2 separate regions of the Homo sapiens genome follow, and region 2 is linked to region 1. The links come from fine-mapping of genetic effects on gene expression. Tissue or cell type: whole blood. Region 1 holds a variant in brackets; the other region holds the start of a gene. All regions are shown on one strand. Distances are between the middles of the regions.

Region 1 (8,000 bases):
AAAGTGCTGGGATTACAGGTGTGAGCCGCTGCACCTGGCTTGATTTTTAAATAGATGTTTCCCCAGCATGCTCAGGGAGTTTGCCAGTTACATCTCTCCCTGTAATATCTTGATGGAGGTGCAGGGCTCTAGCTGGAGTCTGAACGAGCACGTTTTGCATCGTGAAGGTGCTGCACGGTGGTTTAAACCCAGCCACACACACTGCCGGTCTTGACCGGCGGAGATTCCGCTAAGGTTAAGTGTGTCCACAGAGTAGAAATCTCCGTCCACCAGCCCGGCGGAAAGGTTCCTGTACGAGCAAGTGCCCATCTGTGGAGGACATCTCTCCAGAACATTCTTGCCCGACTTAGAAAGGAGCTTAGTGGTTGCCTAGGGCTGGAGTGACGGGTGGGACAGGCAGGGGGGACGGAGAATGACTAAGAGCTAGGGGGTTCTTTCTAGAGTCAGGAAAATGTTCCGAAGTTGACTTGGTGGCCGCGCAACTCTGCGAATGCGCTGAAAACCACGGACTGGAACAATGGAAAGGGTTAGTTGTAAGGTATGTGCAGTCGATCTCAGGCAAGCTGTTTTTGGGGAGAATTCTTGCCCAAAAGCTCCCACACTGAGGGTCTACTCCAGCCCTGGGTTTTTCCCAGGTCCACCCAGAAGCTGATGGCTCCTGGAAGTTGGGCCAAACTGGTGACTTGGTTGGAGATGACACTGCCTGGCTCAGCCTCAGACCACAGAGCCGTCTCTACACAGCGAGCTGGAACTGGCCACCGCTCCACCAGTGCTGAGCCCGAGTGACTTGGGGCATGTCATGTGCCTTCATTCCCATCCCCTCCCTAGGCCACAAATCCTACCACCTGCCCGGCCAAACAGAAAGCTGTCAGGAAAATAAAAATAGCTCACTTAATTCTCGATGACATAAATATAAATACAATTGTCATCATTTCAGACTCAGAGAAATAATCAGAGAGGGAAGGAAGAGCCCGTGAAAGCTTCCGGAGGCGATTTTTAAAATGAATGTGACAGATCGCTCCTGTCCACCGCTGTCCCCTCGCCCCGTCTCTCCCAGCGGAAGGACGGGTTTACTTTCTGGATGGGGTGAACCCGAGGCCTGGACGAGGGCACCCAACACAGAAGCGGCAGACAGTGACATCTCACGCCAAAAATAGCCTTGCGACCTGAAATTCTGCAGGAGGACCAGAGGCTCTCAGCCCCCCAAGCTTCCAGAGCTGAGCCCAGCTATCAGCAGACAATGGCGCAGGAGAAAAGCCTGAGACCCAGCCTTCCTGAGCCCCCCATGAAGCCCCAGGGAGGGAGCCCCGTGCACCGATGCCCACGCACACTTGGGCAGCGGGGGGGTGGGCCGGGGGGCACCTCCCCTTCCACAAGAACAGACACTTGGGGAATGCCCCCATCAAGGAAGACAGGGACTGAGGCAAAGGAGTTTGAGGGGCAAGGAGGAAGCAGACGATCTGGGGAGTGGTGGAAGCCACAGAGCATCTCATCCTCCCAAGGAGGGAGCGGGCCCTGCACCTGCCCACCAAGGCCAGGACCACAAGAGCCACAGCCAGGGGAAACGGGAAATCTTGCACAGTTTAAAGTGACTCAGAAAACATCAAAAGGAAGAGGCTGGATGAGATCTGTCTCAGGAAGGACAAAGAAAACAGGAGCTTCAGAGGCTCTGTCTGGGAGGCCTACGGCTTGAGATAGAGTCACCCCACACAAGCCGCTCCTTCTCAGGAGCTCTGGGAATGCATCTGCTGTCTCCTAACTGCTGTGGAGTCGCGTGTCTTCTAGGAGCTGGGCGGCACGGTTACTAAGGTTAAAACACAGGCATCGCTTCAGTGGTTAGGGGTTGAGGACATGGGTGACGAGCTGGAAGTCTGATGGCCTTCCCTGCGCCAGGTGAAGCTTCACCCACGGCACGTGGAGGGCAGACTCCACGTGGCCAGCACCTGCCACCCAGATGAGCTCTGGGGGAAGTCCAGGGTTGGCGCGTGCTGGGAGGTCCCTGTGGCTTCCCCAATCCCATGGCGCTGGCTATGACGGCCAGAGAGAGGATGTCAGCCGGACTAAAGACCAGGGAAAGGCTCCCACCGTCCCACCCAGCCTGCAGCTTCGGGGACCTCAGAGCAGCCTCTCCCGTGAGAGAAACAGCAGACCCAAGAGCAAGGGCCAGAAGACGCCAGGCCGGTTTTCACGAGCGATACCTGCAGGATGCAGTTCCCATGTGGGCACTGGGCAGCTTCCTGGACTGTGGCTGAGGCTGTAGTTCCCAGAGCACCTTCTCTCCTGCTTCTATAGCAAACATGGAGACAGAGAAACGTCCACCCAACTGAAGACCATGTTTCTCTGCCCCTCTTGCAACCATGAGACTATGAGCTGGTCAATGGGATACAAATGGGTCATGTCTATATGAGGAACCAAGGGCCTTCTTCACTCCTCCCCTTCCCAACAGCCAGATACTGCTGTGATGGCAGGAGCCGAGCAGCCACAGTGGACCATAAAGGCACACTGCATAACGGAGCAACAAGCAACGTAATAGAAAAAGTCTGGTGCCTCCAGGTCATAGCTGACATTAAGATGGTCATGTGTGGCTGGGTAGGGTGGCTTACATCTATAATCCCAGCACTCTGGGAGGATGAGGTTGGAGGATTGCTTGAGCCCAGGAGTTTGAAACCAGCCTGGGCAACACAGCAAGAACCCAGCTTGAAATAAAAAAATAATAAAATTAAAAAAAAAAAGACCGTCACGTATAAAAGAAACAAACTTGGCCCTCGTTATTTTTGACCTTTGTTGCAAAATCAAAACTACGTCCTAACTGAAAGAATCCAGGAAGAGGGTGAAAAGCCCCAGAACAGAAGCTGTGCAGGAGCCCAGAGCTGTGCAGGAGAGAGCCAGGGCTCTCAGGAGAAAGTTCCCAGGAGAACTGAAGGACAGGAATGTCGTCTTACCCAACTGCTGAGCGAAGTTCTAGAGTTGGGTCAGCGTCCAGAGATCAATTCACAATAGGTACAGAGAACGCTGGACGAGTAAGAAGATAAACTCTGCGCTATGGGAAAGAGGCACACGTGTAAGGGGCGTGCAGCGCAGACCCGCGGCTCCGGATGAGGAGGGCAGCAGTAGAGCCAGACCCTGTCTTCTCTAACGGAAAGCCATGTGTGTCTAC[A/C]ACAGGGCGAAAACTCAGTGAATAGCAGCTCAGACTGTTAATCAGGATGCTTTAAAAGCCACTGCCTCTGCGAAGTGAGACCTGAGGACTTCTGTTTGAAGCCTTGCGTTACTATGGCCATTTAAAACTATGCATATTGGCTGGCGCGGTGGCTCATGCCCGTAATCCCACGGTGGTTCACGCCTGTAATCCCAGCGCTTTGGAAGGCTGAGGTGGGACGATCGCTTGACCCTAGGAGTTCGAGATCAGCCTGGGCAACACAGTGAGATCCTGTCTCTAAAAATTGTTTAAGAAATTAGCCAGGTGTGGTGGCGCACACCTGTAGTCCCAACTACTTGGGAGGCTGAGGAGGGAAGATGGCTTGAGCCTGGGCAGCGGAGGCCGCAGTGGGCTATGATGGTGACTGAATGAATGAATGAATGAATGGAGAACTGTCGGCACTGGGATCTTTGGTCAGTCTCTTCATACACTGGCCTGGTTTCCCTCATCAGCCAAACTGGGGTAATGATGGTGCATAATCAGAGTTCTTGTGGACTGAACAAATGATTCCAAGCAACGTCATCAGACGCACACAGGGCGTGTCACACATAAGGAGCCCTCGCTAAATACTGAGGCGTGGGGGAATATGGAAACGTTTACAACAGCTTGATAAATGTAGCAGAAGCCCAAGTGGAACAGTGCAGCGGCTCACGGCAAGGGAGGTGAAGTCAGACCTGCCTGGCTGGAGCCTGGGCTGCTCAGATGCCCTGGGGGCACCTGGGCAAGTCACTGAATCTGAGCCCCGCCCTGGCCAGCCCGGCCTCCGTGTGGCCTCAGGTCTCCATGCCGTGAACATCAGTCCTGACCGGACGGCTGGCACGTAGCAAGCGGTTACTGAAAATGTGCTTCAGTTATTCTTGTTATTAGACAAGGACTGGAAGGACAAAGGAAAACAGCCCAGGATAAGGATGGTGTTATAAGCAGGCCTCTCTGTTTTCTTTTTTTTTTTTTTTTTTTGAGGCAGAGTTTCGCTTTGTTGCCCAGGCTGGAGTGCAGTGGTGCAATCTCAGCTCACTGCAACCTCCGCCTCCAGGTCCAAGCGATTCTCCTGCCTCAGCCTCCCGAGTAGCTGGGATTACAGGTGCCCACCACCATGCCCGGCTAATTTTTGTATTTTTAGTAGAGATGGGGTTTCACCATGTTGGCCAGGCTGGTCTTGAACTCCTGACCTCAGGTGATGCACCCGCTTTGGCCTCCCAAAGTGCTGGGATTACAGGCGTGAGCCACTGTGCCCGGCCGCCTCTCTCTTTTCAAAAGGTTCTTTAAATGTTGCTACCATGTCCTTGAAGAAATGAAAGACTCAAGAATGGGAGGCAAAAGCTGTTACATACTCCAGGTACTTTTCGAATTTTGCAGGCTGCAACGTGTCTTTAGGATACCCGATAAAGTACTAAACCTGGCTCGCCTGGTTCTGTTAAGTGGTTTGGCTCTGAGGCAGGGGGAAAACGTCCCGCAGGGCCCAGGCCCCCAAGAGTCTCAAGGGAAGGCCGGGGAACAGCAGAGCTTGACTTGCAGGGATGCTCACCCACCACCTCGGAGGCCCCTCACCACCTCCTACCAGCAAGTTCTCTGTGCAGGGACAGGAAGTCAGGTGACGGTCCCAGGGTGGGCCACATCAGATAAGGCCTGAAACTGGAATGCCGGAGGCCCTGCAGTGTTTGCTTAAACTCCTCCGAGAAATAAGACTGTTCAGCAAATGGTTTTGATTTTTTGTAGAGACAGGGTCTTGTTATGTTGCCCAGGCTAGTCTCCAACTCCTGGCCTCAAGGGATCCTCCTGCCTCGGCCTCCCAAAGTGCTGGGATTGCAGGAGTGAGCCACCGCGCCCATCCTCAGGAAATGGTTTTGAAAGAAACGTTAACATATAAAATCCCCAAATCAGAGAATTCTGACAACCTTAAATTTTTTAACCTAAAATACTGTCTTTCTATTAAAAATGGAAGGCATTTATTTATGACAACCCCAAAACGAACACAGGTGGCTGCAGCCATAGGCGCCTCTCTATTGCAGAGACCACGTCTTCGCCAGCAGCTAAGAGCAGTGCATGGCAGTGAAGGGACACAGGTTACAGACGAACCCGCAGCAAGGACGTCTCAAGTGTGGCGGCTTTGGAAAATAAGGCACAAACTTGAAGGCGGGGCGGGGGCTGGGTCGGCAAGGTCCCTGACAGCAACACAAACGTCCATCCCCTCCCCGACAGACACGGAACCAGCACTGGTGCCTGCAAACCACGCCCTCTCCACTGGGCCTGCGTCCCTCCTCCAGGAACCAGAGCTGCAACCGTGACTCCACTTTTGGGTCCATGCCACAACCCTGTTCTCCTGAACCCCACGGCTGACAGCGGTGGCAAGCTGGGTAGCAGGGTGGTCAGAGACACAGCTCTGTGCCTGCCCATCACTCACCCTGGCCGAGTGTACTCGGCTCTGGGCCCTCCGTTCTCGCAGTGACAACAATGTGGGGGTGTGCGTGGTGTGTGTGAATTAAAACCCGGTAGCAGTTTTAGTGTTTATAAGTTCTTATGCGTTCATAGGGCCTAATTTGTTTAAATAGGGAGAATGCATCTATTTTTGTAATCAGGCAAATAAGCATGTCCTATTTGGAAAAAGAAAAGACAGCGAGATACTCAAGCCCATATGCTGAGTCGGTGACACGCGGTGAAAAACGCAGACAACGGTCTGACCGAAGCCGGGCTTTCTTTTTCCTTTTCTTTTTTTTATTTAAATTGTTTCGACAGAGTCTCGCTCTGTCGCCCAGGCTGGAGGGCAGTGGCTGGATCTCAGCTCACTGCAAACTCCACCTTCCGGGTTCAAGCGATTCTCCTGCCTCAGCCTCCCGAGTAGCTAGGATTACTGGTACCCACTACCAGGCCTGGCTAGTTTTTGTATTGTTAGTAGAGATGGGGTTTCACCATGTTGGCCAGGCTGGTCTCAAACTCCTGAGCTCAGGTGATCCACCTGCCTTGGCCTCCCAAAGTGCTGGGATTACAGGCGTGAGCTGCTGCACCCGGCCAGGGTTTCTTTTTGAAGCTGAAGTCTCGGTCTCTGTCTCAGGAAGACCCTGGAGGAAGGTGGCGAGAGACCTCACTGAATTAGGATAGAGCCCCACAGAGGCGGCCAAGCACAGCCATGGCCACCGACCCTCCCTGGGGCTCAGGTGTGTGTCCTGCCGGGTGGGGCTCCCGGGGCCCGGCAGTCCTGAGCACCCCATGGCAGCACAGGCGAGGACGGCACCCTCGGTGTTCACAGCTCCTTCAAAATCCCCCCACCTTCCCTTCGCGGAAGGAACGCTCATCTGGTAGGTGACTGCTTCCCAATCCCAACATGGGGACCCGTGGTGACTCCCACAGCTTTACTCTGCGGAGGCTAAGGGACCCCCAGATGACTGACACGGCCAAACGGCGGTGGCCCCAGCGATCTGCATTTCTAGCAGACGTTCCACTCCCCAGACAACCCTGCCTGGCCCAGGAGAAAGCCACTGCCTGCTGCTCCCGAAGAGGATCCTGAGGATCGGAGAGTAGGCTCCGAAATCACCTCCGCTCCCCACCATGCTGTGTGGCTTAAACAGACGTAAAAAGACCGCGTAAAGATGGACTAGGCTCTTTAAGACAGCGGACACAGACACAGTGTTCTGCAACCCTCTGGGGCTGACCCGGGCAGAGCTTGCTTGCGACGAGCAATTCAGGTTAACTTTCATCTTCTGTCTCTACGCTGATTTAAGAAAATGCTTCTGGGAAGTCAAAATGGCTTAATCTGCAGATCTCAAAATGCTGTCCACAGTAATTCCACGTAGTCATTATTCACTGGCCACCTGACTGATACCAAGTACCAGACGCTGGTTTATCTGCATAGACTTTGCGTCCTCTAAGACTGTTCCCCAGGGTCCCCTTCTCTATCTAGGCAGCCTTCCTTGAATTCCCTGGCTCACTCTCATGCCCGACTTAAGAAAAATACGTTTTCTTTTCTTTCTTTTTTTTTTTTTTTTTTTTTCAAAAAGAGACGTGGTCTCACTATGTTGCCCAGGCTGGCCTCAAATTCCTGGCCTCAAGTGATCCTCCTGCCACAGCCTCCCAAAGTGCCAGAAGTATAGGCTTGCACCACCACGCCTAGCTGGTAGCAGGTTCCTGGAGGAGGAGTCCCATCTGCTGCTGGTCTGTTCTCCCCACAGCACGTGGCTCCCACAGGGCAGAGGGTCAGTACACACACAGCACGTGCACTTTAGTGCACACGAGTAAGAGTTCATAACCATGCAGTTCTCTCAGGAATGTGGAGTCTCCCAGGAGGTGAATGCATAGAAACAAGTTTACATGTGAAGTGGAATGAGCTTAATGCTCAACAGCAGCACAGCCGCAGCCGGACAACCCCGAGGACTGAGGGTTAAAATCTGGGTGCTCTTTGGAAATTCCAAAAACCACAGAGAAATGATTAGACTTTTCTGATCCTGGATTAACCTTGAAAGGACAGCAACAATACCGCCTTTGCTGTGTTAGGATCGATGATCCAAAGAATCAGAGAACGTTTGGCAGGCAAGAAAGAGTCGTGTCACATCTCCACTGGAGGCGGGGGGCTGCCAACAGAACTGCTCCAAACAGAAGCTTGTGAGCCGGTCCCGGCTGCCATCCAGGGCCAGGGCAGTCCCCTGGTTGCTGTCCCGGGGGCCCAGCTGCCTGAGGTCAGTGCCACTAAACATGGCTGGGGAAGGGCCCCTGGAAATGTCTGTGCAGTGATTGGTATCTGTCTATACCAATGCCAGTCCAATCGGCAAACACACGCCACCGACTGTCTCCATTTTACCGGCCGCTTTTCCTC
Region 2 (8,175 bases), 44 kb before region 1:
TTCTACTAAAAATACAAAAAAAAATAGCTGGGCGTGGTGGCACAAGCCTGTAATCCCAGCTACTCAGGAGGCTGAGGCAGGAGAATCACTTGAACCCGGGAGGAGGAGGTTGCAGTGAGCTGAGATCATGCCATTGCACCCCAGCTTGGGCAACGAGAGCAAAACTCCGTCTCAAAAACAAAAAAAAATAAAAATAAAAAAAATTCACTGGGCATGGTGTAGTCCCAGCCACTTGAAAGGCTGAGGTGGGAGAACTGCTTGAGCTGGAAGATCAGGCTGCAGTGAGCTGAGATTGTGCCACTGCACTCCAGCCTGGGTGACAGAGTAAGACTCTACTTCAAAAAAAAATATATATATATAATATAATATATATGTTATATATAATGTTATATATGTTATATATGATATATATGTTATCATGTTATATATGATATATAATAATCATGTTATATGACATATAACACGTTATGATATATAACATGTTATATGTTATATATCATATATAACGTGTTATGTTATATACGTTATATATGTTGTTATATGCGTTATATACGTTATGTTATGTTATATACATTATTTCTAATGTTATATATGTTATATCTAATATATGTTATACATAATATATGCTATATATTATGTTGTTATATATGTTATGTTATATATGTTATATAGTTGTTATATATGTTATATATAATATATAATATGCTCTATCTCAAAAATGTATATAATATATATTTTATATATATTACATATAAAAATATATTTTTATATCTATCTATCTATCTATATATATATTTTTTGAGATAGAGTCTTATGCTGTCACCCAGGCTGGAGTGCAGTGGCATAATCTCAGCTCACTGCAGCCTGATCTTCTAGCTCAAGCAGTTCTCCCACCTCAGCCTTTCAAGTAGCTGGGACTACACTAAGCCCAGTGAATTTTTTTTATTCTTTTTTTGATTATATATAAAATATTATATATCATTATATATTATATATAATGATATATAATATAACATATAATATATAACATATAATTATATTATATATTACTAAATATATATGTAATATATAATATATAAAATGTTATATATAAATTATATATACACACATATACATATATACACACAATGGAAAATCTTTCCCAGAAAGGTGGAACCCCTCATCCCGATTAAATTCCCTTCAGCATATTCTCCAAGTCTCAAGCTTCTCTCTAAAATCCAACCCACCCAAACCCTTCAACAGCTCCCCACTGCTTTCAAATCCAAACTCCTACAGACCCCAACGCTGCCTCCAAGAGCCCGGCCCCGCCTTCCTTCTCCAGACTCCATGTCCTGTTTCTTTTGCTTCTGTCCCTTCGCACAGACCCTGTGCCTGATACATGCCCCACTAGCTCCCGAGCTAGTGGGCTGAGGCTCTTCCTCCTGGAAATCCCCGACCTTGCGGGGCACCCCTCCATGCCCCCATCCTTTACTCGCTTCCCGCTCTCTCCATTTATCCTTCAGCTTGCAGCGCTATCTTTGATCACTTTTTGCACCCTTGCTTTCCGTATCTCTGACACATTTAGAGAGAAACTAAAGTTCACTCCAAATCTTTTTGGCTTTCTTTGGAGACAGGGTCTCCCTCTGTCACCCGAGCTGGAGTGCAGTGGCACCATCATAGCTTACCGCAGCCTCAACCTCCTTGGCTCAAGTGATCCTCCTGCCTCAGCCTCCTGAGTAGCTGTGACTATGGGTACGTGCCACCACACCTGGCTAAGTTTTTTAAAAATTCTGTTTTGTAGAGACGGGTCTCGCTATGTTGTCCAGGCTGGTCTCAAAGTCCTAGCCTCAAGCGATCCTCCTAACTCGGCCTCCCGAAGTGTTCGGATTACAGGCGTGGGCCAGTCACTGCGCCTGGCCGGCTCCAAACCTTAACCCTCAAACTACAGTCATTTATTTTAAAATATCATCAGAAATCACAGGCTTAAGAATATTGTGAAAACTGGTAAGCCCTAATAGATTAACCTTCTTGAAACCCTAACAGAGGGCAACTGCAGAACTCATGTATGTTACATAGGGAAATTCAACCACACTCTATCCTCAAAAACGGCTGCCCACCCGAGCCAGGGAGGCAGAGAAACAGGTATTTAAATAGTGAGGGCTCAGCCGGGTATGGTGGCTCACACCTGTAATCCCGGCACTTCGAGGGGCCGAGTCAGGCGGATCACCTGAGGTCAGGAATTCGAGACCAGCCTGGACAATGTGGTGAAATCCCATCTCTACTAAAGATACAAAAAATCAGCCGGGTGTGGTGGCGGGCGCCTGTAATCCCAGCTACTTGGGAGGCTGAGGCAGGAGAATTGCTTGAACCCAGGAGGCGGAGGTTGCAGTGAACTGAGATTGCGCCATTGTACTCCAGCCTGGGCGACAGAGGGAGACTCTGTCTCAAAAGAGACTCTAATAAAAATAAATAAATAAATAAATAAATAAATAAATAAAGAGGGCTCTTCCTTTTGTTTTTCATGTCACAAGTTTATGACCTTGAGCAGAATGTGACTGGGAATGAAGTTCTCAGTGGGTGTTTTTCCTTGTCTCTTGGCAAGGACCTTGGGATTAACATGTTACATGCTGAGATGCCAGTATTTTTCATTTTCATATAGTCCCCACATTCACATGAATGACATATCTGTCCAGGATTGAAGGGAAGGTTGCCTATGTTGAGCTGCTGGGAGATGGTGCTGCATATTCACCAAGCCTCTTCCTAATGAGTGGACTCTTAAGGGTTATTTTGATCAGAGATTTTTGTCCTGTTCGGGCTTTAGAACTTAACCTGCCTTCAAGACCTCACTCACTATAATCACAGCAATTTCAACCACCCGAATCTTTCCCACCAATTGGTCTAGCTCTGAGTCCAGGTTTGCTTGTTTGTTTTGACATGGAGTCTCGTTCTGTCACCCAGACTGGAGTCCAGTGGTGCGATCTTGGCTCACTGCACCCTCGGCCTCCTGGGTTCATGCACTTCTCCTGCTTCGGCCTCTCACCTCACCAAGTTTGTTTACGTTTACCAAGGGGCTGTAGTGCTGGCTGTATTTTCTTTACTTTTTTTCTTTTTTCTTTTGAGACGGAGTTTCGCTCTGTCCCCCAGCCTGGAGTGCAGTGGCGCCATCTCAGCTCACTGTAACCTCCACCTCACAGGTTCAAGCAATCCTCCTGCCTCAGCCTCCCGAGTAGCTGGGATTACAGTCACCCACCACCACGCCCGGCTAATTTTTTTTTTTTTTTTTTTTTTTGTATTTTCAGTAGAGACGTGGTTTCCTCATGTTGGGCACGCTGGTCTCGAACTCCTGACCTCAGGTGATCCGCCTGCCTTGGCCTCCCAAAGTGGTGGGATTACAGGCGTGAGCCACCACGCCCGGTCAGCATTTTCTTCTTTTAAACATGTAGTATGAAGTCTTTGCCTGTTTGGTGGACCGTGAGTCTGTTCAGTCCTGGCTTACACTGTTTTCCCCCATGACTGGTTAGTTGGTGAGGAAGGAGCTACTCACTCGTTACTGGGAGTCCAGACACAGCCTGAAACCAGCCTGGAGGGTGATTTCTCAGCCTAGCTAATACATCCGCGCAAGAGAGATCTTTTTAAGTCACAAAACCCTCCCACGGTTCCGCAAAGCCCTCGGATGGCCTCCAGCTCCCCAGCCTGGCACACAGCCTTATTCCTTAGCAGGCCTCCGGACACTGTGACTTTGCGTTCTTGACTGTGAGGCACTGAAATCTCCCGGCTGCCCGATTTCCTGCCAGACGCGGAGTTCTCACCGCCAAGCCTTTGACTAAACTGTCGACTGGGTCCCACCCCACTTGCTTTCACTCACCAAGACTCTGCTCAAGTGTCACCTCCTCCGGGGACCCACCATGACCCTCCCCGACCTCCTCACCCCAAGCCTGGCCGCCGTGTTGCCTTACCCGATCCCCAAGTCTCGAGGGCGAGTCCAGTCGGGTTCCTGCAAGGCTGGCGCCCAAGCCCCTGCCCTGTGAGACCCACCCCCGTGTGCCCCTAGGGAGAGATGCAGGAAGGAGGGCCGGGGCCGCAGCTCCCCCGTACCTGGCCTGGTGGAGCAAACTCTCCGCTCCTGCCGAGAACATCACGCCGCCGCCACCAGACGCGCACGAACCTCGGAAACTCCAGGAGCTGCAGCCCAGGAGCTCCGCACCCCGGTCAACTTCCGGGACCGCGTCACGTGAGCGCAGCGGCCTTACGTGGCTGCGTCACGTGCCGCATCACATGAGCAGGAGGGACAGGTTGCCGACCAATGGGCTTTGGCGTGGAGCGACTGGGGCGGGGCGTAGGTGCCGCGGCCGGGGGTCCGGGTCGGCGCCTGGGAGCTGCGGAATCGCGCGACCCCGGAACCTCGGCACTCTGGAGCCCCGGCGCCCTTCGACCCCGGAAAGCATTTCGGCGGAAATTGGGCGCCTGGGGCTTTGGGAGAGGGCATTGCTGGCCCCAAAGTGTCACTGCCCCAGTTCTGGTTTCTGTTTCGTAAACAGCTTTGTCGTGCGGGAGTCCCTTTGCTAAGTACGACCTGAAAATCTGATGCAAACTCCGACACTTGTGGGCTGAGCCCAGCAGTGTCCAGCAGTTTGCAAGGAATAGCCGCGGCTCTGGGCAGTTTTGGGGATTTTTTGAGCTCCCATTTATTGAGCACCCATCCCGCGCTGTTCCTGCTGCTTGAAACGAAAAAATCCCTTATTCAATCCCCACGGTATTCATGGGATCTCGCGATCTCTGTTTTACAGATGAGGCCACAGGCTCGGAGAGGGGAAGTTTCTGTTCATTCTAACGGATGTGTTGGGTGCCCAAATGTGCTGGGCCCTGGCCATAAGTTTGCCATCCTGCAGACGGCCGAGGGACACAGGGCGACACGCCAGCGTCATGATAAACGCTATGACAGCCTGACCTGGTTGGGGGTCCAACCGGAGGAGGAAGGCTTCGGCGACTGCGGCCTAAGATGAGCCCAGAGGGTGTCCAGACCAAGGGGTGGGGAGGGACGGGCCTAGGGTAGCGATCTGCTTCCTATGGCTTAAATGCACCCCAGGAGGAAACTGATCTCTGGCCGCAGGGGAGATAATGGATTGGGAAGCTCCTGAGGGAGAAAGGAGGCTGGTGCAGTTGTGGTCCAGGTAAGGGAGGTTGCCCCGAAAGTAGGCAGATTCAGTACCATTTAGAGGTAGGATTTGCACCACCTGTGATTGAGGAATTTGCAGGCAGGAGGAAGAAAGTGGAAAAATCAAGGGTAACTTCATGTTTGTGGGGTGTCTGTCTGGGGCAGAAAAGGACGAGGAAATTTGTGCCAAGAGTCATTCATTAAGTGGACAAGCGATGATTGAGTCCTAGCTGCGCTAGGCACTGCTGAAGGTTCTGGGGAATAGGGTAGGGGTGGGAATCAATGTTGCGTAGATAGGGTGGGTCAAGGTTAGGCCTTGAAGGGATAAGCCCCGAGAAGACCCCTGGATGGAAGGAAGGAGGAGGAGGAGGGAGGGCTTCCTGCAGGAGTTCCAAACATGGCTTTGAGATGCCCTAGGGCGCCCAGTGATGTCTGAGGGCACCTGGTGCAGAGAATGAAGAGATGGGAATCGGTGGATGGTGAGCGGTGGATGGGAGTCGGTGGAGTGCGGCGGGTGCCCCTGGAGCCGCAGGTTGAAGACTGGCAAAGGAAAGCTGGTGACAGGTAGTCTATGGAAAGCCTACTGCCAGTGTTTAACGTTTACTAGGGTAAAACGTCCACACCAAAGCGCACAAATCTTAAATGAACTCCACTATTTACATTTCTAGAAATCGGTGGTAAATTTGCAAATGTCTTAAGCCTCGGCTCCATTGGCGACGGTGGGGAGCCGGGGGTTGATTTGTGTTTGATAATTTCTGTGGTGTAAATGTTCCTGCCATGGTTTGAGTTCAAGACCTAGACCATTTCCAGCTCCCCAGAGGTTCCCCGCTGTGGCCCCCTCCCAGTCAACGCCCACTCCCTTCCCCCACAAGTAACTGCTAGTCTCTCTTATCACCAGAGATTAGTTTTGCGTCTTTTTATACTTCATGCAAATGGAATCGTACCGTACTTAGCTTTTCTTGTTCGTCCATGAATATTTGGTCGGTTTCCAGATTTTGACAATAACGAATAGAGCTGCAGTGCACAATTGTATGTCTTCTGGGGTTCTGAGAGATGCACCCCTCTTTGTTGTATAGATACCAGGTTCACAGGGAAGCTAACTTTAACTGAGATTCCAACTGTGTGCCAGGAATCTCAATCTCTCTCTCCCTCTCTCTCTTCACACAGACACGACCTTAAGCAATTTTACCAGGGGTAATATTTGACTTGTTTCTTACAAAATATTTACATTAGTGTAAAATATTATTTTAAGGTCTCACTAGTGAAAAATGGTTGTGCTAATCAAAAGCAAAAAAGGCCAGGCACGGTGGCTCACACCTGTAATCCAAACACTGGGAGGTCGAGGCAGGAGGATCGCTTGAGCCCAGTTCAAGACCAGCCTGGGCAACATGGCAAGACCCTGTCTCTAAACAAGCAAGCAAACAAACAAACACAAAGACAACATCTTAAAAAGGAAAGATGCAATTAATAATTAGCCAACGCAGATCCCTGGAGGAAGCCTACATACGCTTCTCACTCATGTTTGCTATTGGGCTAAAATGTTTTTCTTTTTTTTCTTTTTTTTTTTTTTTGAGACTGAGTCTTGCTGTGTCCCCCAGGCTGGAGTGCAGTGGCGTGATCTCAGCTCACTGCAACGTCCACCTCCTGGGTTCAAGCAGTTCTCCTGCCTCAGCCTCCCAGGTAACTGGGATTACAGGTGCAAGCCACCATGCCTAGTTAATTTTTTGTATTTTTTTTAGTAGAGACGGGGTTTTACCATGTTGTCCAGGCTGGTCTTGAACTGCTGACCTCAAATGATCCACCCGCCTTGGCCTCCCAAAGTGCTGGGATTACAGGCGTGAGCCACCGCGCCCAGCCTGGGCTGACATCTTAAACTAGAACTAATCTGTTAAAGTTATGTTAACCTCTTACAATGGAAATGGAGTAACTTGAAGGAAGACAGAGAAGCAGTGAAACCTTACCTGCAATGGTGGGTAACTGTGCCATCGGAAAAATGCAAGTTATTGAACTGAGGGAGTCACATGCAAACACTACAGAACCTTGACAGAAGAGAGACATGTGACAAGCATGCACCACTGTCAAGTCTGTCGGAGGCAGTCACACAGACACACCCAAGGGTCTCATAAGTCTGGGGGACTCTCAGAAGAGACAGTGACTGATGGCATCGCAGCTGAGCTTCGGGGCGCCAGGCCTGTGGGGTGGGGGTGCCTGTGCTGCATGTGAAGAAGTGGGGCGCATTGCAAGCTGAAGTCCCACAGCTGGTAAGGACACAGTAGGAACTTGAACCCAGGTCTGTGTAGTTCCAAAGTCAATGCCATCCCCACCCCCCAGGCCCCACACCTACAATAAGTAAGGCCTGAGAGAATTTCTACCCACGTACATTTCTACCCATCTTGGACATGGGTAGAAATTCTCATCTAGCCAAGGGCCAGCAGGAAGGACCCACAGTTGCCCAGGAGCCACTGGGGCAGCAACGAGTACCTGCAAGTGCCCCCCAGCCAGGATGTGGGCGTGTGCCAGGGGCAGGGGGTTGGCTCAGCTGGTTTCTGCCTTTGCCATGTCTGAGGGGAGACACACGTTGTCTTCACATTCCTGGAGCTGCAAACATCCTCGCTTAGAGCACTCTCAGTGGGTGGGGGTCACTGACTCCAGGAGCCACAGGCACCTGCAGAAGCATCTCCTGTGTGAGCCAGGAACGGGACACCAGGGACCTATGGGCGACTTCCCTTATCAGCAGCCGCCCTTCAGCCTCTGGAGCAGGGGGGCGCAGTGCCTGTGTGTCCAGGGGGCCGGGAGCCTGTATGTCCAGGGGCTCAGGGGTCTGTGTGTCCAGGGGTCAGGGGTCTGTGTGTCCAGGGGGTCGGGAGCCTGTGTGTCTAGGGGGCCGGGAGCCTGTATGTCCAGGGGCTCAGGGGTCTGTGTGTCCAGGGGTCAGGGGTCTGTGTGTCCAGGGGGTCAGGGGCCTGTGTGTCCAGGGGGTCAGGGGCCTGTGTGTCCAGGGGGCCGGGAGCCTGTATGTCTAGGGGGTCGGGAGCCTCTGT

What was found. PIP is the estimated chance that this variant, and not a neighbour inherited with it, causes the effect.
Region 2: AP5Z1 starts here. The variant in region 1 is fine-mapped to the expression of AP5Z1 in whole blood (INTERVAL, PIP 0.95).

Annotation. Positions count from the first base shown.
Region 1 is chr7:4,727,912-4,735,911 of GRCh38, reverse strand. The region is part of intron 1 of FOXK1 (forkhead box K1); the gene reads right to left. LOC124901581 (a long non-coding RNA gene) reads right to left here. Exons shown (of 2, transcript XR_007060199.1): 2 at 5,891-8,000. Among named protein-coding and RNA genes, the nearest start is that of AP5Z1, 44 kb to the left of the region's middle. The variant A/C (reference allele first, on the strand shown) is at 3,158.
Region 2 is chr7:4,771,656-4,779,830 of GRCh38, reverse strand. AP5Z1 (adaptor related protein complex 5 subunit zeta 1) reads right to left here and starts at 4,208. Exons shown (of 17, transcript NM_014855.3): 1 at 4,075-4,208. The coding sequence starts at 4,115. RefSeq lists enhancers at 3,530-3,639, 3,660-3,719, 4,060-4,129, 4,560-4,649, 4,690-4,739 and 2 more and a silencer at 4,250-4,379.